Regions from separate parts of the Homo sapiens genome. Here regions 2, 3 and 4 are each linked to region 1. The links come from fine-mapping of genetic effects on gene expression. A gene starts in region 1. Each other region holds a variant in brackets. All regions are shown on one strand. Distances are between the middles of the regions. Region 1 holds the start of NDRG4 (NDRG family member 4). Region 2 overlaps CNOT1 (CCR4-NOT transcription complex subunit 1). Region 3 has its middle 22 kb from the start of NDRG4. Region 4 overlaps SLC38A7 (solute carrier family 38 member 7).

Region 1 (8,104 bases):
GCCCACATCATGGTAGGTGAGGATGGCTGGGCGGTTCCCCTTGGGGGAGCCCCGGATCACTACATGCAGAAGGCCGTAGGGTGTCTCGATGTCATGTTCCTGAAGGGGAGAGACCGTGCTGGACACTCTGGGCAGCCTCCGCTCTTGGCTCCTCTGGGGAATGAGGTGACGCAGCCTGGTACCTGTTAGGCCTGTGGTAGAGCCCCTACTTGGGGCATCCTGTTCTCATCACCCCAAGAAGCCCCCAGAGAGGACTGAATGGATGGAACACCCCTTCTCAGGGCTGTTCAGTACAGAGACAATGTGAACTGATCTGCATGGGGAAGGTCTGGTCCTCTCTGCAAACCAGCCACTGGTTTGTGCTGTCACTGTCCTCCGCCCTTGAGGGTCCAGGGAGGCTGTTTTTCTCCATCTTGCAGCAGCCCCTCCTGGACAGCTCTGCCTCCCCAGCCCAAGTCCCTCTCACACTCAGAACTCTCAGGCACTTCCTGCTGCTGCAGGGGAACGGCCTCAGTGGTCCTGCCTGGAATCCTCAGAAAACACCCCGTGCCAGCCAAGCCTAGCCCCGACCCCGGCACTGCCCCTGGCTCCCACTCTAAGGCTCTTGCGCATGTGGTTCCTTCCACCTTGAACGCCCTTCTGTGTGAGCCCAGCATCCTCAAGGGCTCCCTTCAGGCAGGCCCGGGTCAGACCCCCCTCCCCATCCCCTCTAGAGGCCTTCTGCAGAGCCTGCTCTGGGATCCTCTTGAGTTCACACCTTTGGTTTTGCTGCTCAAGGTCATTACTTCCTCAGGAAGACCTGGTTCTACCCCTTACTTGTGACTGAGCATGTCATGTTACTTCTCTGCTGTGCCTCAGCCTCTCCATCCAGAACCACCTCACAGGGACTTTGCGGGAACTAGACAAGCCAATGTTTGTGGAGCATTTAGCACTTGGAGAAAGCCCCAGAAAGGGGGCTGTTATGCTAGGGCATCCCTGAGCCTTGGGAGAATGCCCTTCTCGCTGTTCCTTTGCAAACTGGGCATTCTTAGCCACTCGGATGGGCAAACTTCAAGAGGGGCCATCTGAGCTAAATAAACCGATCCTCTCTGCATCATTGTGAGCCCTGGGAACCACGTGAGTGGCCCAGTGAGTTGGAGGTGGGGCTGGGGTCAAGGACATGAAAGAAACATCAAGCGACTGAGCACCTACTGTGTGCCAGGCTTCCTGCATGTTACCCAAGAGACAGGAACCCTAGTCCCTGTTTTGCAGGTGAGGACACTTTGGTTTAGAAAGAACCTGAGTTCCTGCCTCCAAATGGGAAAGGAGATTTAGACAGCAGAAGACAGCTGCTCAGGGGCCAGCATTAGTGGGTCTGGTCTCAGAGGACCACTGTCCAGGCCTGTGTCTCCAGTGTGGAGTGACAAGCTGGCACCAACCTGGTGGCCAAAGGCTCTACCCTGGAGAACACTCTTTGACTTGCAGGCCCTTTTTATTTCCCTGTTGTCCTCCAGGAGAGCCCAGGTAATGAGCCTTAGGGTGAGCCATGCGGCTGATTGCACCACCCAGGGGATGAGGAGGCCACACCAGGGCTGAGAGGGGACAGACCACACAGCCCCTCCCATCCCAGGCCTATCCTTTCTCGGGGCCCATCAAATCCAGGAACACTTCCCCGCCACTGACCACTGACCCACAGTTTTCTCATTTACTTCCCACATAGGCCCAAGCCATAGAGGAGGAAATTGAGGCTAGGAAAGGGAAATGACTTGCCCAAGGTCAATCCCAGAGTAGGGAGGGCAGGCCCTGCCAGGTGCCAGTCTCAGGGGCCAGGGCGGTGCACTGAAGGCTGCATGTTCACAGGAGATCAGGTTCCACCCGAGGGAGCTCCTGACCAGGCAGCCCTTTCACAGCCACCTGTGAGTTCTCTCAGCTCTGGAGGGTGGGGCTGCAAAAGAACTGCAATGCGCCTCCTGCTGCATAAAGGACAGTTATCCTCCTGGGGTCAGACGTCGAGAGCCCAGGGCGGTGCCTTCCAAACCCAGACCCGCAGCGTGCGGGTCCGCCTGAGGGGTGTGAGGGGTGTCTGCTCTCTGCTGCTGAGGAGGCCCCACTGTCTTCTCCCAGCCCTGGTGTGGCCGCCCCTGTCCCCATCCCCCTGAGGTGACGTGATCAGGCTCTACTAGGGCTCATCTCCCAGGATGGGAAGGGCTGGGGCTGGGCCTGGGCGTCACCGGGCTACCTGTCCTACGAAGTCCAGTGACCTTCGCTGAACCCTGCTGCGAACCTCCCTAACGCCTTCTCTCACCCTCTGCGGAGAGCTCAGGACTCAGTTCAGCCTGATCGAAGCCAAACATCCCCGTCCCTTGGAGCGCTGCGCAAGGGCAGCCCCACAAGGGCCACAGCGCGGTGCACTCTGAGGCCCCCAACCCTCAGGGCCGAGCACTCCCATTGGCTCTGGGTGACGTCAGAGCCGGCCCCGCCTCCAGGTAGGCGCAGGCGGGAAGCACTGCGGCAGCAGGGGAGGGGGCTGTGGCGGCTCCTCTCGGTCGGTCCGTCTCCCCTCGCCTGTGACCTTGAGCACTGGAGGGGAGTGGGGCTTTGAGCCGGGCTTTGCGCCGGTGTGGGAGTTGGTGCTGGTGGTGCTGTGGTTCGGCCTGTCAGCCGCATCAATAATTCAGGGGACAGGGTCTGCATGGGCGGGCAGGTGCTGACGTCGTCACCTCCGTGCGTGCGGGGTGACCTATCGTCTGCGGAACCGGCAGGGCAGGCGTGTGGGGCCCGGGGGTGGGGGTGAGTCTGCCCCTGCCTCTCCCTCCTGAGGAAGAATGGGGCCGGGGTACCTGATGCCCCGGCGAGAGGAGGTGCCCTGGGCTCCACCTGGGGTCCCCTAGCCCTGCCAGCTTCACGGCTCCAGCGTTGCCTTCCCCCACCTACAAAATAAGGCAGGCAGGCAACCCCTCCTCGTTCCTCCCCAGCAGGGACCCCTGCCTGAAAGGCTGTCATTCCTGTGTGGCCCAGACCTCCTTGCCTCTGCCCGGCTGGCGCAGCAGAGCCCTGGGAACTGTGAGGTGGCTCCTAAGGAAGAGGCCGCCTGTCCTTCCCATCACACTGGCGCAGCCATCCAAACAAGCTAGACGGCCGCCCACTGGGACGGCAGCCCCTGCACGCACAGACCCGGCACGCACACTGGGCACACAGCCTCGGGGGCTCACCAAGGACACCCCCGCCCCCTGGCCTGATGGCCCCAGGCATCACCAAGGCAGACACCATCCAAGCGCACACCAGAGGGCACACGGTCAGAGGGACATGCAGGCACTAGCGCCCGGGTCCACACGGGCAATGCAGCCAAGTCAGACAGTGCCTTCCACGTTCCATTTCCTGCAGATATGTCACCCACCCCCCAACCACACGCTCCCCCCAGCCCCTGCTATGGGCTCTGACTAGCAGCTGCCCCCAGCCACTCCTGCAAACAGGATCACCAGGGAACCTGGAGCACTCTGGCCGTGTCTCAGTGACCCCAGGGTGAGGCTATTTGAAGGCCGGGCTGCCACCAGATGTGGGTTGAGGGGGGCACTTCCTCCCTGCGGTGGGTCATAAGGATGCACCATCCTCCCGGCCCACCTTGATGCCCGCAGCGCCCTCACTCACCCCATCCCAGCACTCCGGCATCTTGCCGAGGGAGGGAACCCGCCTCTACCAGGAAGGACAAACAAAGGCCTGAGTCACTCGGGTCCAGAGGGCGGGGGCAGCTCGAGTGGGAGATGGTCGGCTCTGTGATGGGGCACAGCTCCTGGGCCATTTATACAGGGATCCTGGCCCAGCCTAGCTAGCCCCTCCTCCCCGCAGGGTTTCTGAGCAGCCACTCGCTTACCAGGAGCCCCAGCTCCCATATTGGCTGCTGGGAGACAAGCCTGGCTCCAATTGGCTTCTGAAGTCCTCCTTGCCCCAGCCCTGTCACTGCTCCTCCCACCCCAGCCACACATCATCCTTGATGGTCCCCAGCCCCTGCATCCGCCCCCAGCACATAGGCACACGCCAACAGCTGCAGCTCACACGGGATCCTCCGAATACAAAAGCCGAGACCACACGTACAGACTCACCCATGTCAGGTACACACAGGGTCGTCACAGACATGCACAGCTTACCAATGCGGGGCAGGGCAGGGTGCATGGGCACTGCCCAGACAGCTAGAGCCCTTGACCCACACCTTGGGGAGTATGGAGGGCCCGAGAGGGCCCCAAGCCCAACATCTTGGGGACCAGACCCCCACGCCCAGCCTTCCCATTAGGAAGGTTCCATCGCTTAACCTTGTGGAGGCCTGGGGAGCTGCTGCTTTCTGGGGCAACTTGGGTTATCACCCTGCTTCAAGGGGCTGCTCCTTCTCCACCCACCAGGGATGAAAATCCCACCTTGCCCACGCAGATACAGGGGGTTTCCCCACATGCTGAAAATGGAGTTTGGGGGCCGGGGGCCAGGGGCCCTGGGCAGATAGCAGGGCCAGGGGTATGGTCAGGCACACACCAGCTCTGCCCTCCCCACCCTCACCCTGCTGCCAGGGGCTCCAGACCACCAGGGAGAGGAAGCGGGGCTAGGAGGCAGCTTGCTGACATTGACATGCCCACCTCCTGTAGACCCACCCGGCCCTCGTTCCCAGAGGCAACCAGTTTGGGGCTTGGCTCTCGGGTCTCTGGGGAGCAGAACACTAGGTCTATCTCAGGCTCCGTGCCCTGTTCTCCTGGGCAGCAAGGATCTGGGTGGCGAGCTCGCCCGAGGCCTGCAGGTGGAGTGAGCAGAGGAGAAGAAAGGCCAAGAAGTGCACAGGAGGAGAGGAAATAGGCCAGAGAGGGAAGCAGAGGAGGGGGCCCAAGGCTGGGAGAGCAGGAGCCACAGAGAGAAGGGGGCTGCTGCGTGCCTATGCTCCCAAATCCATGAAGATTATATGTATTATCGTTGCAACTGCCTGTGCAGTAGGCACTGCTGTTTCTCCCATTTATATATGGAGGCTCAGAGAGGTTGACTGACTTGCCCAAGGTCACACAGCAAAGAAGTGGCAGACCTATGAGTGGGATCAGGGTTTGGCTGGCAAGACCTGACCCTGCCTTGTCTGGCCACGATAACTGCACAACTGCCAGAAAAGGGGCCAACAGTTTGGAGAGGCACACAGACTGCCCCATTTCTCTCCTGCCAGGGCCTGGGCAAGGGTGGGGTCAGGGCACAGAGCCTGAGATAGCCCTAGTGTCCTGCTCCCCAGATACCCGAGAGCCAAGCCCCAAACTGGTTGCCTCCAGGAACAAGGGCCGGGTGGGTCTACAGGAGGTGGGCATGTCAACGTCAGTAGCTGCCTCCTATCCGGCTTCCTCTCCCTGTCTTGCTGAAGAAGGAACACGCCACTCACCCCAGCCCATGCTGATGGCCCTGCATGCTGACTGGCTGCCCTTGGAGAAAGTGGTCATCTCTTCATCTCTGGGTACCTGCTGACCTGGTCGACACCTGCTATGTACACTATTGCTGGTCATGTCCTCTGCCTGGGGGCACCTATTCCATCTCTCACCTCTTACTCTGGAGGCCTAGGGAAGACTGACAGGCCCTGTGCTCCCCAGGGCAGCAGGAAGTAGAATGGGGAGTCCCCCTGGCCCGTCACCTCCTGGCCATGCTCCCCATTCCTGCAGGCACTGTGGCACAGGAAGAGGCTTGGAAAACTGAGGCACAGCCCTGCCCTCTGCCCACAATGCCCTCCCATGTCCCCCAAGGCCCCACCCAATCCTACGCCCACTCCAACCTCTGACCCCTGAGTGGCCTCTCCCCACCTTTGGACCCAGGTGACAAGCTGACCTGCGACACTGCCCACTCCAAGCCACAGCCTCCATGACTGCTCAGCTGTCTGCAAACCCACAGACGTGGGTTTAAGTCCTTCCTGGCCCCCTACCAGCCGGGTGACCTTGGGCAAGATTTTTTTTTTAACCTCTCTGTGTCTCAGGCTTCTAATTGTAAAGCAGGGACTGTGTGCCTTTCTCACCAAGCTGCTGTGAGAATCAGAAAAAACTGCAGAAATCACTCTAGATCTGACCCCACCCCTGCCCAGGTCCTGGCAGGGGAGAAATGAGGCAGCCTGTGTGCCTCTCCAAATTGTTGGCCCTTTTTCTGGTGGTTGTGCAGTTACAGTGGCCAGACAAGGCAGGCTCAGGTCTTGCCAGCCAAACCCAGGTCTTGCCAGCCAAACCCTGGTGCCACTCATAGCTCTGCCACTTCTTTGCTGTGTGACCTTGGGGAAGTCAATCAACCTCTCTGAGCCTCCGTATGTAAATGGGAGAAACAGCAGTGCCTACTGCACAGGCAGCTGCAAGGATAATACATATAATCCTCATGGACCTATGAGAAGGGATGAGGAAACTGAGAGTTGGAGAGGTTAGGTAATTTCCTCACTTGGCTAGTAAGCAGCGGCAGCTACTAGTACCCCAGCACTCTGGGTGGGCCTGAGGTCTCAGAATCAAGAGTGGCAAACACTATGTTCAAATGTCCTCCATGTGCCAGGCTTTCTTGGAGTGCTTTACCCATTCTCTCTATCCCTCTTTTTTTTTCTTCTTCTTCTTTTTTTGGAGACATGGTCTTGCTCTGTTGCCCAGGCTGGAGTGCAATGGTGCAATCTCTGCTCACTGCAACCTCCGCCTCCCGGGTTCAAGCCATTCTCCTGCCTCAGCCTCCCAAGTAGCTGGGACTACCAGCGCCTGCCACCACACCTGGCTAATTATTGTATTTTTAGTAGAGATGGGGTTTCACTATATTGGCAAGGCTGGCCTCAAACTCCTGACCTCAAGTGATGCACCTGCCTCAGCCTCCGAAAGTGCTGAGATTACAGGTATGAGTCACCACACCCAGCCTTTATCCTCTTTTTGGAAAATATTTTTAAGTATGGAAGGCTTCACGAATATGTGGGTCATTCTTGTACAGGGGTCGTGCTCATCTTCTCTGTATCATTCCAATTTTGGTATATGTGCTGCTGGGGCGAGCACTCATTTTCTCTCTTAATACCCTCTTTACAAATGAGGCAAATAAAGCACAGGGAGGTTTGGTAACCTGCCTAACATCACACAGCTAGTGGGCACAGAGCCAGGAACCACACCCAGGCAGTTTGGTGCTAACTCCACACTCTGGTGGCCACTCGTCACGGTCAGCTGAGTGTCCATATGAGGGGCCCATGGGCACCATCGCCTTAGAAACACTCGGGAGGTCCGTGCTGCCTGTCTCCCTGAAAATGCGGTAGACAAATGGAGTGACTTGGGCTGGAGGTCACATGCTTGGAAGTGGCGGGGCCAGAACCTAGGTCTGTCTGGCTCATGTTAGTCCCTCTGCTATACTACCTCCCCCACTGGCTGCCCCCACGGAGGCAGGGGACAGTGACAACGCCTGCCATAGTGAGCAGGAGATAAAATCCCTGCCAGGTCTTGGCCCAGATAACGACCATCCATTCTTGTGGCTGCTTTTCTAAAACAAAAAACGAAAAAAATGCTGCCTCCATGTGGTGTGACAGGAGTGGACAGGAAGGTGCCTTTTAATGCAACCTGCCTTTTACCAAGCAGAGGATCCTGAGAACCGGGGTCCCACACACCCTGGGCCCCGCAACTCCGGGGCTGCAGCTCAGAGGGCTCAGGGGCCAGAGGCAGCTTCGCAGCAGCAGTTGGGAACCCAGAGGTATGGTAGGGTCTCCTCCACGACTCCAGGATTCCCCTCTGCCTGTCCCCCACACCGTGGGCCTGTGTGCTGGGGCTGGCATCAGCACTGTTGGCGTCGGCCTCCCACACTGTGGGACCAGTGTGTTGAGGCACCGGCTGGCTGCTCTGAGATTTTACTTGGCCAACCCCCTCCTCCAGGGCCCATTTGCCTGCATAGCTCATCCTCATTTGCAGCATGGAGGACAAAGAAAATCCCCTGGTGAGCCTGCCCTGATCTCCGGCTGTCCCTTCCCACCAGCCTGGGCCAGCTCCCGACCACTTCCCTCCCATCCCACCTCCTGGGCTCCCATTCACTCCCCACTGCCGGAACCCTAGCCTCTCCTTCCAGCTCCAGAGCCCTTTGTGCTTGGAGATGGCATTCCCGGAGGATCTGAGCACATGTACATTGGCTGCCC
Region 2 (8,104 bases), 68 kb before region 1:
GTCACCCAGGCTGGAGTGTGGTGGCACTGTCTTGTCTCACTGCAACCTCCTCCTCCCACGTTTCATTGATTTTCCTGCCTCAGCCTCTGGAGTAGCTGGAACTACAGGCGTGCGCCACCATTTCCAGCTAATTTTTTTTTGTACTTTTAGTACAGATGGGGTTTCACCATGTTCCCCAGGCTGGCCTTGAACTCCTGACCTCAGGTGATCTACCCACCTTGGCCTCTCAAAGTGCTGGGATTATGGTCATGAGCCACCGTGCCCGGCCTTAATGGTTACATATTTCTGATGGATTGACCCTTACTGTAAAATGTCTTTGTCTCTATTAACAGTTTTTTTCTTAAACATTTGTTTTGTTTGATACTAGTATAACCATTATAGTTCTCTTATGGTGGTTTGCTTGGTATATTTTTGTTTTGTTTTTTGTTTTGTTTTGTTTTGTTTTTCTCAAGCTATATGTGTCTTAATTTGAAGTAGGTCTCTTTTAGAGAAGGTATGGTTGGAGCATGTTTGTGAATTTGTGTTTGTGTTTACTACATTCTGCCTGTCTTGCATTTAATGTATTTATTGATAATATAGGGCTCTTTTGCTGTTAATCTTTCTATCTCTTGTCACTTTTGTTCCTCTGTTCTTCCATTACTGCCTGTCTTACTGTTAAATAGATATTTTGTAGTGTACCATCTTAACTCCTATGTTTCTTTGACTTTATTTTTTGTTTTGTTTCTTAGTGGTTGCCTTGGGTATTAAAACTAACATTTTAACTTACTCCAATCTTTTAGTTTCGGTAGGATCCAAAAATTTCATTTAGTATGGCTTTGTCCCCTTCCCCTTGATTTTTGCCATTATTGTCATGCAAATTATACCTTTATACATTATGTGATCACCAAAAGGTTTATAATTCTTGCTTCATGCAGTTATTTTTTTGAGACAGGGTTTCATTCTGTTGCCCACGCAGGACACGATCACAGCTCAGTGCAGCCTCAACCCTCCAGACTCAAAGCGGTCCTCCCAGGTAGCTGGGACCACAAACATGTGCCACCACACCTGATAAATTTTTTAATTTTTTGTAAAGTTGAGGTTCTCAGTATGTTGCCCAGTCTGGTGTCGAACCTCTGGGCTCAAACTGATCTCCCGTTTTAGCTTCCCAAAGTGTTGGGATTACAGAAATGAGCCACTGCACCCAGCCCAGTTGTTCTTTAATTAGGAGATTTATACTGTCCTTTGTATTTACCTGTGTATCTTTGCCAGTAGTTTTTCATACGGATTCAGGTCAGTGTTCAGTGTTTTTTCATTTCAGCCAGGATTCTTGAATTTTTCTTGTTTCAGCAGGACTGCTAGCAATGAATTACCTCTTTTTGTTATCTAGGGAATATCCTAATTCCTCCTGTATCTTTGGGGATAGCTTTGCCAGATGAAGGATTCCTGGTTGGCATTCCTTTTCTTTGAACATTTTGAATATGCTCCCCCACTGCTTTCTGTCCTCCATGGTTTCTGATGAGACATCAGCTGTTAATTTATTGAGTATTGTATGTGATGAGTTGCTTCTATCTTGCTGCTGGTAAGATACTCTCCTTGTCTTTTTTCTTTCATCAGCTTGATTATGTTATTCTAGGTATGAATCTCTTTGAGTTTATTCTACTTAGAATTTATTGAATTTCTTGGGTGTCTAGATTAATGTTTTTAATAAAATTTATCGGGTTTTCAGTCATTATTTCTACAAATCTTTCCGTACCTTTTTCTTCTCTCCTTGTACTCCCATTATGTTTGTGGTGGCACACTCAGTAGTGCTCCACATGTCCTTGAGTTCTCAGCCCCCATCCCCCCACCCCCTTTTTTTTCATTTTCTCAGGCTGGATAATTTTAATTGATCTATCTTCAAATGAACTATTTTGTCTGCTTGAATGTGTGGTGGGACATGTGGTTAGTGAAACTTTATTACAGTTACTGTACTTTTTCTGTTTGGTATGTTGTAGAGTGTAGTATCTGATGGGAAAAAACGAATTTCTGTTTTTTGGTTTTTTTTTTTGCTAATTTCTATGGACATGCTTTTTGAGATAGTATTCCTATGTTTTCCTTCAGTTCTTTTGATATATTTTCTTTTAAACGTGTTCTGTAGTGGCTGGGTGTCATGGCTTCAGCCTATAATCCCAGCAGCACTTTGGGAGGCCAAGGTGGGTGGATCACTTGAGATCAGGAGTTTGAGACCAGCTGGCCAACATGGCAAAACTCCGTATCCACTAAAAATGCAAAAATTAGCCAGGCATAGTGAAGGGCGACTATAGTCCCAGCTACTTGGGAGGCTGAGGCAAGAGAATTGCTTGAACCCAGGAGATGGAAGGTACACTGAGCCGAGTTTGTGCCACTGCACTCCAACCTGGGCAGCAGAGTAAGACTCTGTCTCAAAAACCAAAATAAAATGAAAATAAATGTGTTTGGTAACTGATTTGAATTCCTTGTCTAGTAAGTCCAACAGCAGTGTTTCCTCAAGGATCATTTCTACATAGCTTTCCAGCCCTTTGCATGGGACACCCTTTTGTTTCTTTACAAGTCTTGTAATTTTTTTGTTGAAAACAGACAACTTTAAATAATATGGCATTTCCTGGAATCAGATCTTCCTTCTTCAGCAGAGCACATTGTTCGTTATTGCCCTTTTTTTGTTTAGTGACTTTCCTGAACTAATTCTGTTCTTTATAATAGTTGGCTACTGAAGTTCCTGCTTGGTTAGCCTTGTTGTCAGCTAAGATTGACGAGATTTTCTTAAACCTAATCTTGGGAATCAATTCAGCACTAAGCCAGGCAATTCACAGCCACCTTAGTCTTTACTTCCAAAGTTTTTTTTTTTTCTCTCTTTTTTTTAAAATCGAGACGGAGTCTCGCTCTGTCGCCCAGGATGGAGTGCAGTGGCACGATCTCGGCTCACTACAACCTCCACCTCCGGGGTTCAAGCGATTCTCCTGCCTCAGCTGAGTAGCTGGGATTACAGGAGCATGCCACCACGCCTGGCTAATTTTTGTATTTTTAGTAGAGACAGGGTTTCACCATGTTGGCCAGGATGGTCTCGATCTCTTGACCTCGTGATCTGCCTGCCTTGGCCTCCCAAAGTGCTGAGATTACAGGCTTGAGCCACTGCACCCGGCTCAAAGTTTTTCTTTACAGATTTTTTTTTTTTTCTTGAGATGGAGTTTCGCTCTTGTTGCCCAGCCTGGAGTGCAGTGGCACA[A/G]TCTCGGCTCACTGCAACCTCCACCTCCTGGGTTCAAGTGATTCTAATGCCTCAGCCTCCCGAGTAGCTAGGATTACAGGCATGCACCATTACGCCCAGCTAATTTTGTATTTTCTTTAGTAGAGACAGGGTTTCTCATGTTGGGCAGGCTGGTCTCAAACTCCCGACCTCAGGTGATTCGCCCGCCTCCCAAAGTACTGAGATTACAGGCGTGAGCCACCGTGCCCGGCCTTCTTTACAGATTTTTAGTTAGCCTGTATGTAGTTTGCTCCAACTGTAGTAGTCTTCCACCTCAGATAGGCAATAAGTTTAAAACAGTTACTTTCAAATGTTTTTTGTAAACACCTCATGCAGAAAAGGTTTTTGTTTGGGTCAGTTTTCAGGTCAAATAAATCCAACCTTGTCATTGTGTTCTCACACAGACTCCCTATACAGATGAAATAATGACAATTCACTGAGAAGGAGGCTTTGAAGATGTTTTAACCCTGTTTTGATTCACCTCTCAGGCTTCTGGTTTTCATTGTGATTGAGGGCTGTCAGCTTCTAAGCTGGCTGTGGAGCTGGAGATGGGAATAATAGGGCAAATTAATGTGCTAGAAAACTTGATAGTCTCTTGAATAAAAATTTCCCACTTGTTATAAGCCTTTGGTTAACTTCCAAAGTTCTGAAAAAGTTGATTCAGACACTTTTCTAGTTGCTTTTATGAAGGAGAGGAAGTCAGCCCATACCCTGTCGTTTTGCTTTATGAGAAGGTTTTTTTTTTTTTTTTTGAGATGATGTCTTGCCTCCAATTACCTGGGATTACAGGTATATGCTACCATGCATGCCTATTTTTTAAATTTATTTTTATTTTTAATTTTCTGTGGAAATGGGGCTTCACCATGTTGCCCAGGATGGTCTCAAACCCCTGAGCTGAGGCACTCCTCCTGCCTTGGCTTCCGAAAGCGCTGGGATTACAGGTATGAGCCACCACGCCCGGCCAGCATTATTTCTTTTTGTTGTTGTTTAAATAGTCTCACTCTATTACCCAGACTAGAGTGTAGTAATGTGATCATGGCTCACTCGTGGGCTCAAGCAGTCCTCTCTGCATCCTAAAGCGCTGGGGTTATAGGCATAAGCCACCTATGCTCAGCCTTTTTTTTTCTTTCTTTCTTTTTTTCTTATGAGGTCTTACTGTGTTGTTGTACAGTCTGAAGTACAGTGCATGTTCACAGGCACAATCATAGCTCAATGCAACCTTGAACTCCTGGCTTAGTCTTCCTGCCTGAGCCTTGTGAGTAGGTGGTCCTATAGACGCATGCCACCATGCTTGGCCTGATGGTCTTTTTGGCTGTTATAATTAGAGAGAAACGTGCCTCTAATACCTAGTAGTGTAGAAACCAATGATACTAGGCTGGGCGCGGTGGCTCACAGCTGTAATCCCAGCACTTTGGGAGGCCGAGGGTGGGTCACCTGAGGTTGGGAGCTCAAGACCAGCCTGATCAACATGGAGAAATCCCATCGCTACTAAAAATAGAAAAATTAGCCAGGCGTGGTGGCGCATGCCTGTAATCCCAGCTACTCGGGAGGCAGAGGTTGGGGTGAGCCAAGATCTTGCCATTGCACTCTGTCTGGGCAACAAGAGTGAAACTCCGTCTCAAAAATAAAAAAAAGAAACCAATCATACTGGCTAAACATTCCACAGTGCACAAGACTGCCTTGTACAACAAATAATTATCCATTCCAAAGCACTCTGCTCTATAAGCTCTAAATGTTCTACAGTTTCAAGTTCTAAAGTGTAACCTTTTACATTTATACATTTTAATCCATCTGCAGTGGAATATTCTGGAAAGTTAATTGCCTGTTAAAATTGCGCAAAATGTTTTTATTGTAAGAAGGCAGTTTACCTAACTTCCAGGTTTCAATTAATTTCTTTAATTGATCTATTAGCAGTACTTGTTGAAAAATTTAATAAGATAATGTATCCAAAGTATTTTGAGTCCATACTGATGATAATAAATGCCAGAGAAGGAAAGTTATTTCAACTAATAAATATAGAAGAATTACGATGGAGTTGTAATCTTTAATGTGTGTTAATAGTAATGGATATATGTTTGAAGAGCAGGATAATTATGTAGTTTGAAAATATCTCTCCACAAATTACATTGTAATTACAAAGGGGGAAAACAACTTCAGAAAAACCTGTCAGATACCATGTTAGTCTACTGATCAAAGTGATCACCATCTGAAACCTACATCATGTGTTTCATAAAATGCACTGAGAAGAATACAAGGTAATTTATTCTGTAAGGTTATAATACCTAATTTGAATTTAGAACATCAGACAAACTCAAATCAAGGGACATTCTACAAAACAACTGACTTGTACTTTTTTTTTTTTTTGAGGCAGGGTCTTGCTCTCTTGCCCAGGCTGGAATGCAGTGGTGCGAACTCGGCTCACTACAACCCCTGCTTCCTGGGTTCAAGCAGTTCCCTCAGCCTCCTGAGTAGCTGGGACGACAGGCGCACACTACCACACCTGGCTAATTTTTTGTATTTTTGGTAGAGATGGGGTTTTGCCATGTTGGCCAGGCTGCTCTTGAACTTCCTGACCTCAAGTGATCTGCCCACCTCTGCCTCCCAGAGTGCTGGGATGACAGGTATGAGCCATTGCACTTGGCCCTGAGTTGTACTTAAAAAAATAAAGTCAAGAAGAACACGTAAAGGCTAAGAAAATCTTTCAGATTAAATGACCTGAAGAGAGGTGACAACTTAATGCAATGGGAAAAATAGCTTTGAAGAGCATTGTGGGAATAGTTGGTATAATGTGAACATGGCCTATTTATTTTATCATTGTTAAGCTTCTGATGTTTGATTTTACATGGCTATGTAGGAAAATGTTTTTGTTCATAGAAAATATATAGTGAAGGCTGAGCATGGTGGCTTACACTTGTAACTCCAGCACTTTAGGAGGCTGAGGTGGGCAAATTGCTTGAGCTTAGGAGTTTGAGACCAGCCTGGGCAATGTCGCGAAACCCCGTCTCTGAAAAAAAACATTTAAAAATTAGCTGGGCATGGTCTGTATGCGTGGAGTCCCAGCAGCTGGGGAGGCTGAGGTTGGAGGATCATCTGAACTCAGGAGGCAGAGGCAGAGCCATAATTGTACCACTGCATTCCTGCCTGGGCGACAGTGAGACCCTGTCTCAAAAAAAGAAGAAAACATGTAGTGAAGCATTTAGGGATAAATTCATGGTATATCCAAACCAATGCTTCAGGGCGAAAAGTATAGAAATAATGGTTAGGTTAATAAGGCAAATGTATACCATTGGCGTGAGAAGCATTTGTGGGAGTTAATTGTAATATTCTTGCCACTTCTTTTATTTATTTATTATTTATTTATTTTTTTGAGACGGAGTTTTTCTCTTGTTACCCAGGCTGGGGTGTAATGGCACAATCTTCGCTCACTGCAACATCTGCCTCCCAGGTTCAAGCGATTCTCCTGCCTCAGCCTCCCGAGTAGTTGGGATTACAGGTGCGCGCCACCACTGCCCAGCTAATTAATTTTTTGCATTTATAGTAGAGATGGGGTTTCATCATGTTGGCCAGGCTGGTCTCAAACTCCTGACCACAGGTGATCCTCCACACCCGGCCAATTCTTGCCACTTCTAAGTTTGAAACTGTGTAAGAAATAAGAATTTATCCCTAAATAGTAAAGGTGAATATTTTAATTTACCATATTTTATTCTAAAGTGCCCATTTTATTTTTCTTCCTACTTTAACATTTCTGAAATGATGTGTCTCATTGGTGATGTGTCTTATATTACAATTGGTGGAATTACTTTTTTTGTTTTTGCATAGGACATAAAATATTAGTGTGGCTTACACAATTGAAGGCATTTTGGATTCAATGCAGTATAATATAATTACCATCTACTGCTTGGTACCCTGTTTTTCTAACCCATGGCACTGGTCTTTTTGGAACAGTTTCTTTTTAATTTAGTGGTTTGTTTGTTTGCTTTTGTTTTTGTGATTGGTAAAATATAGGTGTGGTTTTAAAGTCAAAACTCTAAAGCAAGATACATTTGGAGAAATCTTCCTTTGAACTCTGATACCTCTACCTTGTTCTCCTTTTCTCCTGTAGTTAGTCACTATCATTAATATTTTTGGGTTATCTTATATTAAAAACAAATACATACTTATTCGTATATTTATCCCTATCCTTCACTGTAGAAGAGATAATATGCAACTTGCTTCTTGATCTTATATCCTAGAGTTCACTCCATACAATTAGAGAGCTTCCTTATTTCTTTTACTTGCTGCATAATACTCCATTGAATGGCTGTTCTGTACTGTAGTCAACCAGTCTCCTACTGGTGGAAATTTGCATTGTTTTCGCTTTTGTATCACATACAGTGTTGCAGTGAGCAGTGTTTTGCATCCATCATTTTTACCAATGTATAATTGGACTACTAGAAGTGGATGTGTCAGAATAATAGGTAAATTCATCTGCGATTGTGTTAGGTATCGCAAAATTTTCCTCCATAGGGATTTTTCTATTTTGTAAAACCAGCAGTGTTATTGCATCTATTTCCCCACAGCCTTGCTAATATAGTATGTGCCTGTTATTATGGTGAGATATGGGACAACATGGAGATACGGTATCTCTATGAAGTTTTAATTGTTGTGGAGTATTTGGAATGCAGATACATTTGTAAATGAAGCTTCAGAGGACCTCTTGTTTCCTTAAATTTGAAATACTTTTAATTATTTTGAGCATTTTTGTGGAAACTAATGTTCTACTTGTTTCTAAAGTAAATAAGTAGACCAATACCTTTAGGAGTATAAGGCTCCCTTTTCTTTTTTGTGGTCTGCATTGCATAACAATAGGAATGCATTTCTGAGATA
Region 3 (8,104 bases), 22 kb after region 1:
GGGCCTGGTGTATCCCTACTGCTTGGATCAGAGTTGGTGCTCAGTGATACATGGGCCACCACCCTACCCGACGCTACACCAGTGCCTGGTTGGAAAAGAAGCCCCAGAAATCTGGGACCCCGGAAATTGGGGAATCACCTTCCAACTGCACTATATAGGGGGTCTGGAACTGTCCAGGGAACTGGACCCTCTTATTTCTCTCCCTGTCCTTATCCTGATCTCCTAGGCCTGGGACAGCACTGAGGGTGGGGCAGGGATGGGGGCTCAATCTTCCCTCAGGATTCCCAGTTCACGGATGAGAAATAAGAGGCACAGGAAGGAGCAACTGACTGGTGCAAGTCCTCCTGTGGCCAACCCAGGAGGGGACCCAGAGTGCATGCTTCCACCCGCCTACATGCATTCCGCCTCCCCGGGTGGGTGGCAGGACAGGAGGATGCAAGGGACATTATTTCTCCAGCCCAGGCTCCATATCTAGGTATGGCTCCTTGATTTATGTCAAACTTGAACTTGACCAGTTCTGCTTTTTCCTTGGGTTGAGCCTGTGAATCCCTATGCCCTCACCAACCACACCACCACCCTGCATGCGCGCGCACACACACACGCACGCACCCCCAGCACATTCCCACTGTCTTAGGCAGCCATATTTGGATTCTGGCACTCCTGGCTAAAGACCCGGGCTGACTCAGTAGGCGCATCCTCCCCATGGGAAGCACATGCCTTTCTTCATGCTGTTCCCTCTGCCTAGAGTGCCTTTCCCCATCATATCCCTACAATGGGAGCAATATGAAAAACAATCCTTAATATTAATGAATGCTATGTTCCAGGCATTTTACATGTATAAGCTCATTTAGTCCTCCTAACTCCTCATGGAGGTAGGTACTATTATTGTCCTCATTTTGTAGCTGAGGAAGTGAGGCATACACAGGTGACATAACCAGCCCAAGGTATTACGACTGGTAAGTGATGGAACCTGGATTTGAACCCATGATGTCCAGGTCTGGAGCTCATATGCTCATGTGTGGACTCTATCATCTTTTTTTTTTTTTTTTTAAGACAGAGTCTCACTCTGTCGCCCAGGCTGGAATGCAGTGGCACGATCTCAGCTCATTGCAACCTCCGCCTTCTGAGTTCAAGTAATTCTTGTGCCTCAGCCTCCCAACATAGCTGGGATTACAGGCTTCTGCCACCACGCCCAGCTAATTTTTGTACTTTTAGTAGTAATGGGGTTTCACCATGTTGGCCAGGCTGGGACTCTATCATCTTGCTAACCCACTGATGCATGGATGAGTGGTTTAATCTCCCTACTGTCATCTCCCAGAGGACAGCGACCTGATCTTGTTCATTTGTCCAACCCTATCAGAGTCCAAACACACAAAGGCTTAATAACTGGTAAAATGGATGGAGGACAGGCCAGAAATCTCCACGGCTGACCTGTCCACAGAAGCCATAGGAAAGCACAGGATAAACATTTTTGTTGCTCAAATGCCACTGTTCCAATGTCAGTTATAGGCATAAAGCAGTATTCAAATGCACACCACCAAGGTGGTGAGGCCACTCTGGTACAAGGCTGTTTGACAGGGCTGGCTGTCAAGAGGCTTCCAGGTCAGTGAGTTTGGCCACAAAACTTGGAGGGGGCAGGGCCGGGTGCGGTGGCTCACGCCTGTAATCCCAGCACTTTGGGAGGCCAAGGCAGGCAGATCACTTGAGGTCAGGAGTTTGAGACCAGCCTGGCCAACATGGTGAAACCCTGTTTCTACTAAAAATTCAAAAATTAGCCGGGCGTGGTGGCAGGCACCTGTAATCCCAGCTACTCAGAAGGCTGAGGCAAGAGAATTGCTTGAACCTGGAAGGCAGAGGTTGCAGTGAGCCTAGATCGTGCCACTGTACTCCAGCCTGGGTGACAGAGCAAGACTCCGTCTCAAAAACAAACAAACAAACAAAAAATCGGAGGGGCAGATGCAGCCTCTGCACATTCCCCACCTCCTACAGGTTGGTCTGGGCTCCCTCCTTCCTCTCAAATCCTACCTGTGTCTCCAGTCTCCCCACCAGGTTTGCCGAAATCCCCTAAAGGGGACAGACTTAGTAGCACTCCCATTCTAGGGCTCAATAAGGAGAAAGAAAATACTATGCACTCAATGGAAAAGTGGGCGAAGGTCTGGAATAGGAATTCAGAGAAGAAACAACACAGGAAAAGCATCTGCTCTGCCTCACTGGCCGTCAGAGAAATGCACGTGAAACAATGAGCAACATGACCTGCTCAGACCATTGCTCCTCAGACACTCCTAGGGGACAAGAACTACATCTGTTTTGTTCGCTCGGATGTTCCCTGTGTCTATGACAGTGCTGGGCACAGGGCAGACACTCAACATTTCTGTTCAATCATGTAAGTAAATGAACGAATGAATCATTCTTCACACAGACCACAACTTACTAAAAGACTGATAATGTGCAAGGTTGGTGAGGTTCTGGGAAAGTGGGCACACACTCATGCTGCTGGCTGGATGGCAGTGGGTTCAACTTTATTTGGAGAACAACTTGGTAGTCTGTTAAATGCAAATATCTGTCAGTTCTGCAATTCTGTGTCCAGGTATTTATCCTAAAGAAAAACACCCATGTGTGCACTAAGAGGCAGTACACAAGGGTGCTCACTGCACAGCCGAGTGGAGGAGTACAATCTGGAAACCACCTCAGTGAGCACCAGGAGGATGGTGAAATAAATTATGGAACATCTGCACCCTGGAGTACCATGCAGCCATTAAATAAACAAGGCAGCTCCACTCAAACAGAGTGGGAAAGCATTCTAAAATATGCAATTAAGAAAAAAAGGCATGTCACCAAATAATGTGTAAAAATAATTCCATTTATGGCTGGGCACAGTGGCTTACACCTGTAATCCCAGCACTTTGGGAGGCCGAGGCAGGAGAGTTGCTTGAACTTGGGAGGCGAAGATTGCAGTGAGCCGAGATCACGCCATTGCACTCCAGCCTGGGCAACACAGTGAGATTCTGTCTCAAAATAATAATAATAATCTCATTTATGTAAAAATTATATGCATTGAACAGGTACATATATTGGCAACTTCCAAAAAAAAATCCTCAAATGATTCAGGGTAAACTGTAACAATGCTTCTCTCTGAGGAAGGATATGGGTTTAGAAGGGTATAAAAGGGAGATTCTTTTTTTAATCCTATACACCAGATTTTATCAAATCTAAGATATCACTGATTACAAGTGACACTAATTTTTATGTATCAATAAGAAAAAAAAACCACTGCCAGTTAAATGAAGACATAATACTTTCCCCCCTTTTAACTTATTTTGAAAAATATTTAGGCTTACAAAAAAATTACAAAAAAAAAAAACAAAAAACAAAAAAGCACAGAAACACAGACATTTCCCACATACCCTTCACTCAGCTTCCCCCAATGTTATCATGCTACAGAACCATAATACAATTAGAGAAACCAGGAAATTAAACACTGATACATACTGTTAAGTAATATACAGAACGTACATATATTTTACCAGCTTTCCTAATAATGCCTTTTTTGGGTCTAGGACCCAACCCAGGATGCCACATCGTATTTAGTTGGTATGTCCTCCTTGGCCTTCTCCAAATGGGACAGTTTATCAGCCCATCTTTTATAACCTTGACACTTTTTTTTTTTTTTTAGATGGAGTCTCATATTGTCGCCCAGGCTGGAGTGCAATGGCGCGATCTCGGCTCACTGCAACCTCTGCCTCCCACGTTCAAGTGATTCTCCTGCCTCAGCCTCCCAAGTAGCTGGGATTACAGGTGCCCGCCACCATGCCTGGCTAAGTTTTGAATTTTTAGTAGAAACAGGGTTTCACCGTGTTGGCCAGGCTGGTCTCAAACCCCTGACCTCGTGATCCATCCACCTTGGCCTCTCAAAGTGCTGGGATTACAGGCGTGAGCCACCACACC[C/T]GGCCAACCTTGACACTTTTGAAGAGTACTGGCCAGTTAGTCAGTAGAATGTCCTCGCTTTGGGTTTGTCTGTTGTTTTCTCATGATTAGACTGAGGTTATACATTTTTGGCAAGAATACGACAGAAGGAGGTGCCCTTCTCAGTTTGTATCAGCAGGCACATGATGTCAATCTGTCTTATTACAGAGGACGTTAACCTTGATCCCTTGATAAGGAGCTCTCTGCCAGGTTTCTCCACTGAAATGTTACTATTTTTCCCTTTGTAAGCAGTGTGGGAAGATACTTTGACACTATGTAAACATCCTATGTCTCATCATACTTCCCCACCCCCTCCACCCCCCTTACCCCTGCTAATTTTAACAACTATTGATTCTTGCCTACAGCAATTATTACTTTGGTGGTTGCCTAATGATAATTTTCTTTTTTTTTTTCCTGCTGAGGAAAAGAAGATAATTTTCTATTTCCATAATCTCTTCTACACTTATTGGAATTATCCTGTAAGAAAGAGTTGTCCTTTTTCCTCCTTTATTCAATTACTTATTTATATCAATAAGGACTCATGGATATTTATTTTACCCTGTGGGTTAAAAGCCATTGCTATCATTATTTGTTTCATTGTTCAAACTGGGCCAGGCTTGGCCATTGGGAGTTCCCTTAAGGTGGCTCTTTTGTGCTTTCAACATGTACCCATTATTTTTTGAGTTTCAAATATTCTAGCCTCATTACATGTTCTAAACTCATCTTGTACTTTCTCTGCCTCAACCATGAAATCAACCATTTCTCCAAGGAGACCTAGTTCCCTTTATTGGAGAATGACGTTTAGAAATCAAGATCTGGACACCAGGTGTGCTCATTGCTACTGGGGTGTCATTGGTCTAGGCCCTCTTAGCAGGCAGAGCTATGAAATGTATGCAAGACACTAACACACACACATACATATATATATATATATCACATATATATATATCACACATATATATATCACATATATATCATATATATGGAATCTGGAATTTATACTGATCCCTTTAACTCTAATTCAACACCACAGAGTGCATTCTAGCTTCCCCCGTTTGATTGCAATTGTTTTTCTCCAGTGGTGAGAAACCTGGCTCTCATCCATAATATTTTTGCTTATTTGTTCATTCCTGGGATACATATAAAGTAGTGTCAGAACTGCTACCCTTATGATGAGTTCCTGTCATTCAGGGGTTTTTTTGTACTTACTGAAAGAACTCTTTTAGAATATATTAGATCCAGATTTTAAAAAAGCATCTATCACTTTTGTAAATTTTTAAAAAGGAAAATATAATTGAAATAAATTGTTTAAGGTATTCCTTTTCACATTTCGAGTCCAATGTCTCTTAATCTCTCTATCATGGAGTTTTTAATGCTGTGCTATTCCACACAGCCTGGGCTTCTCCAGCATCAAGGATGCTCTACTACTATCTCTGGGATTTCCTTCTGAGCTGCTGACATCCACTCGCAAATTCTGATGTTCATGTGATGGCAGTAACAGCATGAGGCCCCCCTTGCCAACAGAGACTGTATGATGCATCCCAATCTTAGAGATGTTAAAGTATGAAAAAAAAGGTGCATCTTAGAAAGGACATAACACAGCGCTTTCATAAAGTAAGAAGGTGATGTACAGCACCAACGTGTAAACTCTGCTTCTCTACACAACATGGCTCCAGGTGTTAAGCACGGACATTACAATAGACACAACAGGCCTCTAATTCTAAGACCAAGGGCAAGGCCAGATGGAACTAGAATTCCAATAACACATTCCATTTAGGCAGCTTCTATAGGGAACCAGTGAAAGAGTCCTACTGCAGCAGAGACTGCTAATTATCCCCCCATATCTGTTCTCCCCTTCTTCCTTAATAATAATCCCCATATTTTAGATGAGTAGGTGGATGATGGGAATAAAATTTGTTTATGATGACGTGATGTTCTGCCAGTGCGAGGTAAATGGAAGCATGTTACTTTCAGGCAGTGTTCTTAAAAGGGGAGACATGGCTGGGCGCAGTGGCTCATGCCTGTAATCCCAGCACTTGGGGAGGCCGAGGCAGGTGGATCACTTGAGGTCAGGAGTTCAAGACCAGCCTGGCCAACATGGCAAAACCCCATCTCTGTTAAAAATACAAAAATTACCCAGGTGTGGTGGCCAGCACCTGTAACCCCAGCTATTTGGGAGGCTGAGGCAGGAGAATCACTTGAACCTGGGAGGCAGAAGTTGCAGTGTGCCAAGATTGTGCCACTGCACTCCAGCCTGGGCAACAGAGTGAGACTCTGTCTGAAAAAAAAAAGGGGAGACATGCCATTCTTTGACTCTTCCTCCTGCCTCCTGGCTGGAATACAGATGTGATGGCAGGAGCTTGAACAGCCATTTTAGGCTCAAAGGCAGGATTCTAAAGGTGGCATAGTAGTGATATAGAAATAAAGAGTCAAGGTACCTGAGAATCATGAAGCCATGATTTGGGAATCCTCTATTTTGAGATCCTGGTTATGAGAGAGAAAAAAATACTTTTATCTTACTTATTATTACCATGGGTTTTCTGTTACACACAGCTGAAGCTAATCTAAACTTGGGATATTTTTCTTGGAGACCCACCCTATCGTGCTAAAGGAAATCAAGGAAAAAGGAAAGGGTGGGGCTTTCCCAGAGAAAAACAGGGAAATGCTAGAGCAAACCTGCAACTTCCTCTCTCCAGCAGGCAGCATAATCCATGATGCCATTCTCTTCTGGCAGTTTAAACCAGTGAGCCAGCCCCTCCTAACCCACACCTCACAAGCTCACAATAATTATACTGACATGGGTAACCATGACCTACATTAAAAGGTTAAAAGCAACTGGCACTTTTTGTCACGAATTCTCGCATTTCTTTTACACGGGTGCCTCACTCAATTCAGCTGTGTATCTTTGCCCAAGCTGGCAAATTTCCCAGATACACATATCCTGGATCTTTGTGCAAGATTCAAACAGGTAAACTGAGTCAATGAAACTTCTCTGGCACAGGAGTCTGCAATACAGTCTCCAGTAAAGAGAGAGCCCGAGGGGCATCTTTCTTACTGGGCATTTTTGTCACGGAAAGCCCCTTACTTCTCTGAAATGCCTAATTTATTAGCATTTGAGGAATGACATTCATCTGGCAGAGAGGGACTCTGTTCCAAGCAACTCCCAGAGCTTTCCTGCCTCAAATGCAATGTCTGCAGAAGGGGCTACCTGCATTGGTCCCCACCTGACACCAAGGTCCTTTCTCCTAACAGCACTGGGTTTCCTTTTGGGAAACCTCCCTTCCCCATTCTCAGTACATGTGGTTTGGGCCCGAATGTCCATACCCCAGGAGTGGCCCAGGCCTAAGTCATTTATTCATTCACCAGATACTGATTTGGCACCTACTGTGTTCTAGGACTGGAGATAAAATACTGACCATTACAGACAAACATATCTACCTTCGGGAGCTTTCTGGGTGCTGGAGGGGAGGCAAAAAATCAACAAACCTAAGTAAATTCACAGAGTGTCAGACGACCTAAGCAATGCAGGAAGCAGCTTCACAGGAGGGGAGAGAGAGGGATGTGAAACAGGGTGGTAAGAGTGAGAAGCCACCTGCTGAGAAGGGGAGGCAAGCAAGACTTGAAGGAGATCCAGGAGCGAGCGTTGGGATGTCCGGGAAGGGCACTCAGGGCAGGGGGAACAGCAAGCGCAAAGGCCAGGAGGCAGGCGCCTGCATGTTTGAGCAAACGAAAGGAAGCCGGTCAGGCAAGCAAATGAAAGGAAGCCAGCTCACGCCTGTAATCCCAGCACTTTGGGAGGCTAAGGCAGGTGCACGGCTTGAGGCCAGGAGTTCGAGACCAGCCTGGCCAACATGGTGAAACCCCGTCTCTACTAAAAATACAAAAGTTAGCCGGGTGTGTGGTGTGTGGTGCACACCTGTAATCCCAGCTACTTGGGAGGCTGAGGCAGGAGAATCACTTGAACCTGGGAGGCAGAGGTTGCAGTGAGCTGAGATTACGCCACTGGACTCCAGCCTGGGTAACAGAGAGAGATTCTCTCTCAAAAAAAAAAAAAAAAAAAAAAAAAAGGGAAAGAAAAGAAAAGTGAAAAAACCAGGGTGGCTGGAGCAGAGTGAGCCAGGAGGGGAGGAGATGAGGACAG
Region 4 (8,104 bases), 170 kb before region 1:
TCAGCCTCACTGCCTTCCTCTTCATCCTGCCCCTCTCCATCCCCAGGGAGATTGGTTTCCAGAAATATGCCAGGTTTGGAGGCCCCAGCCTGGGTCAGACAGAAGCTATGATCCTGGGCAGCTGTAGACCCAAGGGCTCCTGGGGAACCCTGCTCCTCCATGCCACCTCACCTTGGGGAGCAAGAGTAGGCAAGGCAGGGCAGACCGGGGCTTGCAGGGTTTCAGATAAGACCATCCTTTTCTGTCTCCATCATAGAAAAAGGATGCATCCATGAGAGATTCAGTTCTAAATGTCCTTTTGCATCCATGAGTAGTTCAGTTCTAAGTGCCCTTGTCAAAGAAGGAACAGGTGGTATCTGGGCGGTGAAGGCAGCCTCCTGGCATTCCCTGGGAGGAATTTGGGTCTTTGAGACTGTCAGCCTACCAGCATCTTACCTGCAGCTTGGCATGAAGGAAGGAGACTGGTTTCCTGTCTCGGTGTCTGAAAGGCTGTGGGATTCTAGGCTTCCCCGTCTGTAAGTGCAGGGGCCATGCTCCGCTCTCTCCAAGGCTCCCATAAATGTTGACACAAAAGTGTCTGTACTCTCAACCCTCTTACCTCTGGCATCTCTTAGTTCTCAAAGGCCAGGCTCAGAGGATGGTCTCCCACAGCCCCTGCCCGGGCTGGGCTGCTCTGATTCAAGTCCCAGGTGTGCTTTGGAGCTCTGCTCTCTGCATCGTCTCTGAGCCATGGAGCTGAACCAGCACTTCCTGATGGCCAGGAATGCTGATCAGGTCCCCTGTTGGCTGTCCAGCTCCTTCCTAGCTGTGGCAGGTTTCTCTGAAACTACTTCTCAGGCGTTTCCTGAGTCTGCTTGGCATAGTCTCCGGTTCATTCAGTGGACACTTGTGGTCGCTAGAGCTGAAGGTGGATGTCCCTAGGGGTGGAATCAGATAAGAGGCAGCTGGGGATGAGGACACTTAGTCTCTCCTTCCCGGCAGCTTCCTGAGCGTCGTGGGTACCTGGTACGTCACAGCCATCGTTATCATCAAGTACATCTGGCCAGATAAAGAGATGACCCCAGGGAACATCCTGACCAGGTGAGGGTGAGGGCCCTAGGAGACATGGGGAAGAAGCCACCACTTGGGCCCCAGCAGGTGCTGGGTCAGGAACCAGAAGGCCACACAGGTGCTCTTCTCAAGGCTCATGAGCTCATCAGGGCTGACTTGGTCATTGTAGGAAGGAGGAAAGAGCCCCTGCTCTGATGTTACTGGAAGGAAGAGCAAGAATCAGAGACAGGAGGCACTTTGCCACCTACATCCAACAGATGAGCCAGTGTGAGGCTAGGCCTTGGGTTGTGGAGGAACCTGAGGGTGGAATCCCAGGGTCGAATTGCCTGTGTTTCCAGCATCTGCTTATCTGTAATTTCTGTATCTTTGAGGGTGAATTTATTATTAAAAAAAAAGGGGGGGGGCCAGGCACAATGGCTCACGCCTGTAATCCCAGCACATTGGGAGGCCGAGGCGGGCGGATCATGAGGTCAGGAGATTGAGACCATCCTGGCTAACACGGTGAAACCCCGTCTCTACTTAAAAAATACAAAAAAATTAGCCGGGTGTGGTGGCAGGCGCCTGTAGTAGCAGCTACTCGGGAGGCTGAGGCAGGAGAATGGCGTGAACCTGGGAGGCAGAAGTTGCAGTGAGCCGAGATCGCGCCACTGCACTCCAGCCTGGGTGACAGAGCAAGACTCCATCTCAAAAAAATACAAAACAAAACAAAACAAAAAAAACAATTTCCTTCTTTTGAAAGGAACAAACCAGTAAAGCAAAAGCCCCAGTCCAGGAGCCAGGAATTCTGGATTTTGGCCCCAGGGGGGCTTTTCTGAACCTCCAGGCCCCATCCCAGAGGGCCCTGGGACATAAGGATGCCTCTTCTCCCTGTTCCCAGACTTCTGTGGGTTGAAGCTATGGAATCCCAGTTGCTGGAGACCATGGTGGGCTGACCGAAGAGTGAGGGCGTGGGGTGGGTTGTGGCTCTGAGGGGTTCCCAGGTGGCAGCACCATGTGTGTTTGTTCACAGGCCGGCTTCCTGGATGGCTGTGTTCAATGCCATGCCCACCATCTGCTTCGGATTTCAGGTGCCAGTGCCAGTTGCAAGGTCCCTGCTGTCCCCTTAGATCACCCCACCCTGGGATGGAACCCAGCAAGGAGGAGGAACCCAGGCAGAATGGAGGAAATCCTGGGGGGAAGGATGGAACAGGGGCCTCAGGACTTGCCCCTTGTTCCTGGGGTCTTTGTTCCCAAGGTACCTTCCTCTGGAAACTGGGGTTGAGGTCATTTCCCCACCATGACGGTGCCCTTCACCTGGACAGTGCCACGTCAGCAGTGTGCCCGTCTTCAACAGCATGCAGCAGCCTGAAGTGAAGACCTGGGGTGGAGTGGTGACAGCTGCCATGGTCATAGCCCTCGCTGTCTACATGGGGACAGGTGAGTGCTCCCCCCCCCCAAGACCTGGGACTAGAGTGCTCTCACTTCCACAGGAGTCCCTAGGTCCTGGGGCCTAGCTTTCCTGGGGACAGCCCTGCATTCCCAGCATGACTTGTATAGGCATTGGCTTGAACTTGGCCTGCCTGGAGCCTCCTCCTGCCAAGATGAGAGTGGTGTATTCATCCATTCATTCACCAGTTCTAACTTGGTGCCTAGGAAGTGCCAGGAACGGTTCTCAGCATGGGGGATGCCATGGAGAGAGACAGAACTGGTCTTGCCCTCATGGAGTTGACATTCTTGTTGGAGAGACAGTCATGCAGGAGTAACTGGGGAATCAGTAAGGAATTCCAGATGGTGGCAAGCATCCTGATGACAGTGAAATAGGGAAGGTGTGTTTTGTTTTATTCTATTTTATTTTGTTTTGAGAAAGGGTCTCAGAAACTGTCGCCCAGGCTGGAGTGCAGTGGCATGATGATAGCTCACTGCAACCTCAACCTGCTGAGGTCGAGTGATCCTCCTGCCTCAGCCTCCAGAGTAGCTGGGACTACAGCCATGTGCCATTGTGCCCAGCTAATTTTTTTTTTTTTTTTTTTCTAGCAGAGACAAGGTCTCACTATGTTGCCTAGCCTGGTCTTGAATTCCTGGGCTCAAGCAATTCTCCTGCCTCGGCCTCCCAAAGTGCTGGGGTTACAGGCATGAGCCACCAACCCAGCCTAAAATGGGGAAGGTATGAATGGGACTGGATGGGTGGCTTTGGGAGTGGTTCACAGAAGGTTCTTCTCAGAGAAGGCCCAAATGATGAGAAAGAGCCAGAAGAGGAGGAGCTGGGGAAGAAGGGTTCCAGGCAGAGGAACCACAAAACACCAAATCACTGAGGCAGGGCCAGGAAGAAAGTCTATGTGGCTGGAGTGGTGTGTGATGGGGGCAGGTGAAGGCAGTGAGGCCAGACAGGCACTGGCAGCCAGATCCTGTTGGGCCTCGAGGGCTGCTGGGAGTCATCGAGGAAGTGTTTTAAGCAGGGGGGTGGTTCGGGGAAAGGTGGCTCTGGCTGCCGTGTGGAGAGTGGTTGGGGTGAGGGAGCAAGTCTAGGAGACCCTGGAAGAAGGATCCCCTGAGTTCTTTCCACGGATAGACCGTAGGAGCTGCCTGGGCCAATACTGTTCTAGCCTCTGAATACACAGCCAGGAACAAGAGAGGCAAACAGCCAAATCCCTATTCTCCTGGGGCTCATGTCCTGGCTGGGGAGACAGAAAATAAGCCTGTAAAAATTAATTACTATTATTATTGTTATTATTTTTATTTGTATTATTGTTTACTTAAAGACCAGTGTGATAGTACAGTTAAAAAAAAATTAGAAAGCGATGAGGCCAGTCACAGTGGCTCACACCTATAATCTCAGCTATGGGAGGCCAAGGTGGGAGGTTCTCTGGAGCCCAGGAGTTCAAGACAGGCTGGGCAACATGGTGAAACTCCATCTCTACAAAAAATTTAAAAATTAGCCAGGTTATGGTAACATGCACCTGTGGACCCAGCTACTTGGGAGGCTGAGGTGGGAGGATCGCTTGAGCCTATGAGATCAAGGCTGTAGAGACCCATGATCATGCCATTACACTCCAAACTGGGCAACAGAGTGAGACCCTGTCTCTAAAAAAGAGAGAAATGAGTGTTAGGGGACAGGCCCAGTGGATCATGCCTGTAATCCCAACACTTTGAAAAGCTGAGATGGGAGAACCGCTTGAGGCCAGGAGTTCAAGACCAGCCTCGGCAACATAGTGAGACTCATCTCTACAAAAATT[A/G]AAGAATTAGCTGGGCGTCCGCCAGGCATGGTGGCTCACGCCTGTAATCCCAGGACTTTGAGAGGCCAAGGTGGGTGAATCACTTGAGGCCAGGAGTTCGAGACCAGCCTGGCCAACATGGCAAAACCCTGTCTCTATCAAAATTACAAAAATTAGCCGGGCGTGGTGGTGGTGCCTGTAATCCCAGCTACTCGGGAGGCTAAGGCATGAGAATCACTTGAACCTGGGAGGCCGAGGTTGCAGTGAGCCAAGATCGCGCCGCTGCACTCCAGCCTGGGGGAGAAAGTGAGACTCTGTCTTCAAAAAAAAAAAATTAGCCAGGCATGGTGGCATGTGCCTGTAGTCCCAGTGACTTGGGAGGCCAAGTCAGGAGGAACTTGAGTCTAAGAATTCAAGACTACAGTGGAACTATGATTGTACCACTTCACTCCAGCCTGAGTGACAGAGCAAGATCCTGTCTTTAAAAAAAAAAAAAAAAACGGCCAGGCACTGGGGCTCACGCCTGTGATCCCAGCACTTTGGGAGGCCCAGGCAGGCAGATCACATGAGGTCAGGAGTTCGAGACCAGCCCAACCAACATGGCGAAACCCCATCTTACTAAAAATAAAAAAATTAGGGCTGGGCGTGGTGGCTCACGCCTGTAATCCCAGCACTTCCCGAGGCAGGCGGATGACGAGGTCAGGAGTTCGAGACCAGCCTGGCCAACATAGTGAAACCTCATTTCTACTAAAAATACAAAAATTAGTCAGGCTTGGTGGCGGGCGCCTGTAATCCCAGCTACTCGGGAGTCTGTGGCAGGAGAATCACTTAAAACCAGAAGGCAGAGGTGGCAGTAAGCTGAAATCGCACCACTGCATTCCAGCCTGGGTGAAAGAGCAAAACTCCATCTCAAAAAAAAAAAAAAATTAGCCAGGTGTGGCGGCAGGTGACTGTAATCCCAGCTGCTTAGGAGGCTGAGGCATGAGAACCCAGGAGACCAAGATCATGCCATTGTACTCCAGCCTGGGCATGACAGAGCGCGACTCCATCTCAAAAAAAAAAAAAAAAAAAAAAAAAAAAATTAGCCGGGCATGGTGTAATCCCAGCTACTCAGGAGGCTGAGGCAGGAGAATCACTTGAACCTGGGAAGTGGAGGCTGCACTGAGCCGAGATCGTGCCACCGCGTGCCAGCCTGGGCAACAAGAGTGAAACTCCATCTCAAAAAAATAAAAAAGAAGAAGGCTGGGTGTAGTGGCTCACACTCTGGGAGGGTGAGGTAGGAGGATTACTTGAGCCCAGGAGTTCAAGACCAGACTGGGAAACGTAGCAAGACCCCATCTCTACAAGAAAATTAGCTGGGTGTGGTGGCATCTGCCTGTAGTCCTAGCTACCTGGGAGGCTCAGGTGGGAGAATCGCTTGAGCCGAGGAGGTCAAGGCTGCAGTGAGCCATGATCACACTACTGCGCTCTAGTCTGGGTAACAGGGCAAGACTCTGTCTCAAAAAAGAAAAGAAAAATAAGACAGCGTGATGTGAGAGAGTGCCTGGGGTGGGGGTCATTGTAGATGGACTGGCAGGAAGCATTCTCTGAGGAAGGACATCTAAACTGAGACCCAAATGATAAGGAGATGGCATCTGAAGGTCTGCCAGACAGAACAGTCAGTGCCAAGGCACTGAGGTGGGAATGTGCTGGGCAAGTTCAGGCTCAGAAAGCTGGGGGCTGGAGGGCTTCCAGCGATGGGGGATCTGAGAAGTCAGGGAGGGAGGCATCTGATCGGAGCCCCATCTCCCACTCTGAGCCTCCGTCTAAGTGTCCAGAGCTGCTGCTGCAGCCTCCAGGCTGATGTTGCTCCTAGGAGGAGTGGACAGTCCACCCCACTACCCTCCCAGGGTTGCCCTGACCCAGTTGTCCCTGCCCACAGGCATCTGTGGCTTCCTGACCTTTGGAGCTGCTGTGGATCCTGACGTGCTCCTGTCCTATCCCTCGGAGGACATGGCCGTGGCCGTTGCCCGAGCCTTCATCATCCTGAGCGTGCTCACCTCCTACCCTATCCTGCACTTCTGTGGGCGGTGAGCCCCCTTCCACTCCCCAGGGCCCCTCCTAGCCCCTGTGAGCGCTTCCAACATGGTCCTTTGGCCTTGTGTGGACCCCATCCTGTAGAAGGAGAAACTGAAGCCTGTAGAAAAGAGTCGGTGCCTAGGATGGGTCCCTACATATCCCAGGCCAGGTGTCAGAAGCGCCCTTTGTCCTGGGGTCACCAGAACATTCCGTGAGTCCTGTAAGAATCTCTATCCATGGCATGGCACGGTGGCTCACGTCTCTAAACCCAGCACTTTGGGAGGCTGAGGCAGAAGGATCGCTTGAGCCTGGGAGTTCAAGACCACCTGGGCAACCTAGTGAGACCCCATCTCTACACAAAATAAAATAAATAGCCAGGTGTGGTGGGATGCACCTGTGGTCCCAGCTACTCAGCCACTTGGGAGGCTGAGGCAGAAGGATGGCTGGAGCCCAGGAGTTCAAGGCTGCAGTGAGCCAAGATTGCACCACTGCACTCCAGCCTGGGTGAGAGAGCCAGACCCTGTCTCAAAAAAACAAAAAACAAAAGAATCTCTATCCAGATCCTTTCCTGAGCTTTCACATGGACACCCTCCCCTTTGGATGCCCCAGACAGTTCCTTTTAAGGAAAAAACAATATCAGTTTCCATGTGATGTAAAGCAAAGTGCTAAGCTCTCGACATTCACCGTCTCTAGTCCCTGTGGTAAACAGAGTGCTGGTGGCCCATTTTACAGAAGAGGAAACTGAGGGTCAGGAATGGGGCTTTCCCCGCAGTCTACCCAGTTAGGGGTCTGGCTCCTGTGAGCTAGAGGTGGGGAGCTGCTAGCAGCAGGGGCACCTCTAAGCCCTTCTCCATGTGGGCAGGGCGGTGGTGGAAGGCCTGTGGCTGCGCTACCAGGGGGTGCCAGTGGAGGAGGACGTGGGGCGGGAGCGGCGGCGGCGAGTGCTGCAGACGCTGGTCTGGTTCCTGCTCACCCTGCTGCTGGCGCTCTTCATCCCTGACATCGGCAAGGTGATCTCAGTCATTGGAGGCCTGGCCGCCTGCTTCATCTTCGTCTTCCCAGGTGCGGACCCCTGGCGCCCCATCTCACAGCCCCACAGCACAGACTCCCAGGGCCTGCCTAGCCTCAGCTCCCTACTTGCTCAAAACATGCAGGAGAGAGTAACCACCAGCACTAATTGATCACCTGTCTCGCCTCTGTACTAGCCCCTATCCAAGCATTATCTCCTGGAAAGAAGGTATAGTTGTGATCTCCAGTTTACTGATGGCACGTGGGGCTCAGAAAGGGTCACAGACTTGCCTAGAGCTTAACAAACTCAACTAGTAACCTTTTCCATCCCACGCTGTCTGGGTCCAGAGTCTATTCTTTTAACCATTCATTCAGGTGTCTGCTGCTCCTTGACTATGAGGGATCTATCTGGCTGGTTCAGCCCATTACAGCCCAGAGGGCAGTGGGGTCTGGGGTGGCACCCTGACACAGACATCAGGGAACCTGGGTTCCAGACACAGATCTACCGCCAGATCCCTGGAGAACTGTCCTGTCTGCCCAGCCATGAGTTCCACCCTTTTCCAGCTTGTCTCTATCCAGGAAGCCACCCTGAAAGCCCCAGCTGCTTTGCTTGGAGCAGGGGAGCCAGATCTGCTGGGAAGTGTACTAGGAAGACCCCTGGGGTTGGGCCACCACTGAGTCACCATTGAGTGCTGTCCCTTTAGCTGAGTCTAGCATGCTGCCCAAGGGGTCTTGTCAGATGCCAGCCTGTCATGGGAGAGCAGATGCCAGATGACCCCAGCAGGATGTGGTGTGGG

Evidence for each region. PIP is the estimated chance that this variant, and not a neighbour inherited with it, causes the effect.
Region 2: its variant is fine-mapped to the expression of NDRG4 in thyroid (GTEx, PIP above 0.99).
Region 3: its variant is fine-mapped to the expression of NDRG4 in spleen (GTEx, PIP above 0.99).
Region 4: its variant is fine-mapped to the expression of NDRG4 in fibroblasts (GTEx, PIP above 0.99).

Annotation. Positions count from the first base shown.
Region 1 is chr16:58,495,793-58,503,896 of GRCh38, reverse strand. It overlaps NDRG4 (NDRG family member 4), which reads right to left and starts at 3,754. Exons shown (of 15, transcript NM_001242835.2): 1 at 3,628-3,754; 2 at 1-99. The coding sequence starts at 3,648. It also overlaps the pseudogene RNU6-103P. RefSeq lists enhancers at 1,803-1,852, 1,445-2,261, 2,262-3,079, 3,080-3,896, 7,155-7,710 and 1 more and silencers at 3,776-3,835, 3,846-3,925.
Region 2 is chr16:58,563,438-58,571,541 of GRCh38, reverse strand. All of the region lies in intron 16 of CNOT1 (CCR4-NOT transcription complex subunit 1), which reads left to right. Among named protein-coding and RNA genes, the nearest start is that of SNORA50A, 7.6 kb to the right of the region's middle. The variant A/G (reference allele first, on the strand shown) is at 3,221.
Region 3 is chr16:58,473,955-58,482,058 of GRCh38, reverse strand. It overlaps a transcript of NDRG4 not described here. Among named protein-coding and RNA genes, the nearest start is that of NDRG4, 22 kb to the left of the region's middle. The variant C/T (reference allele first, on the strand shown) is at 3,946.
Region 4 is chr16:58,670,302-58,678,405 of GRCh38, reverse strand. SLC38A7 (solute carrier family 38 member 7) reads left to right here. Exons shown (of 12, transcript NM_018231.3): 5 at 1-73; 6 at 982-1,080; 7 at 2,060-2,117; 8 at 2,352-2,466; 9 at 6,163-6,310; 10 at 7,162-7,361. Among named protein-coding and RNA genes, the nearest start is that of SLC38A7, 10 kb to the left of the region's middle. The variant A/G (reference allele first, on the strand shown) is at 4,263.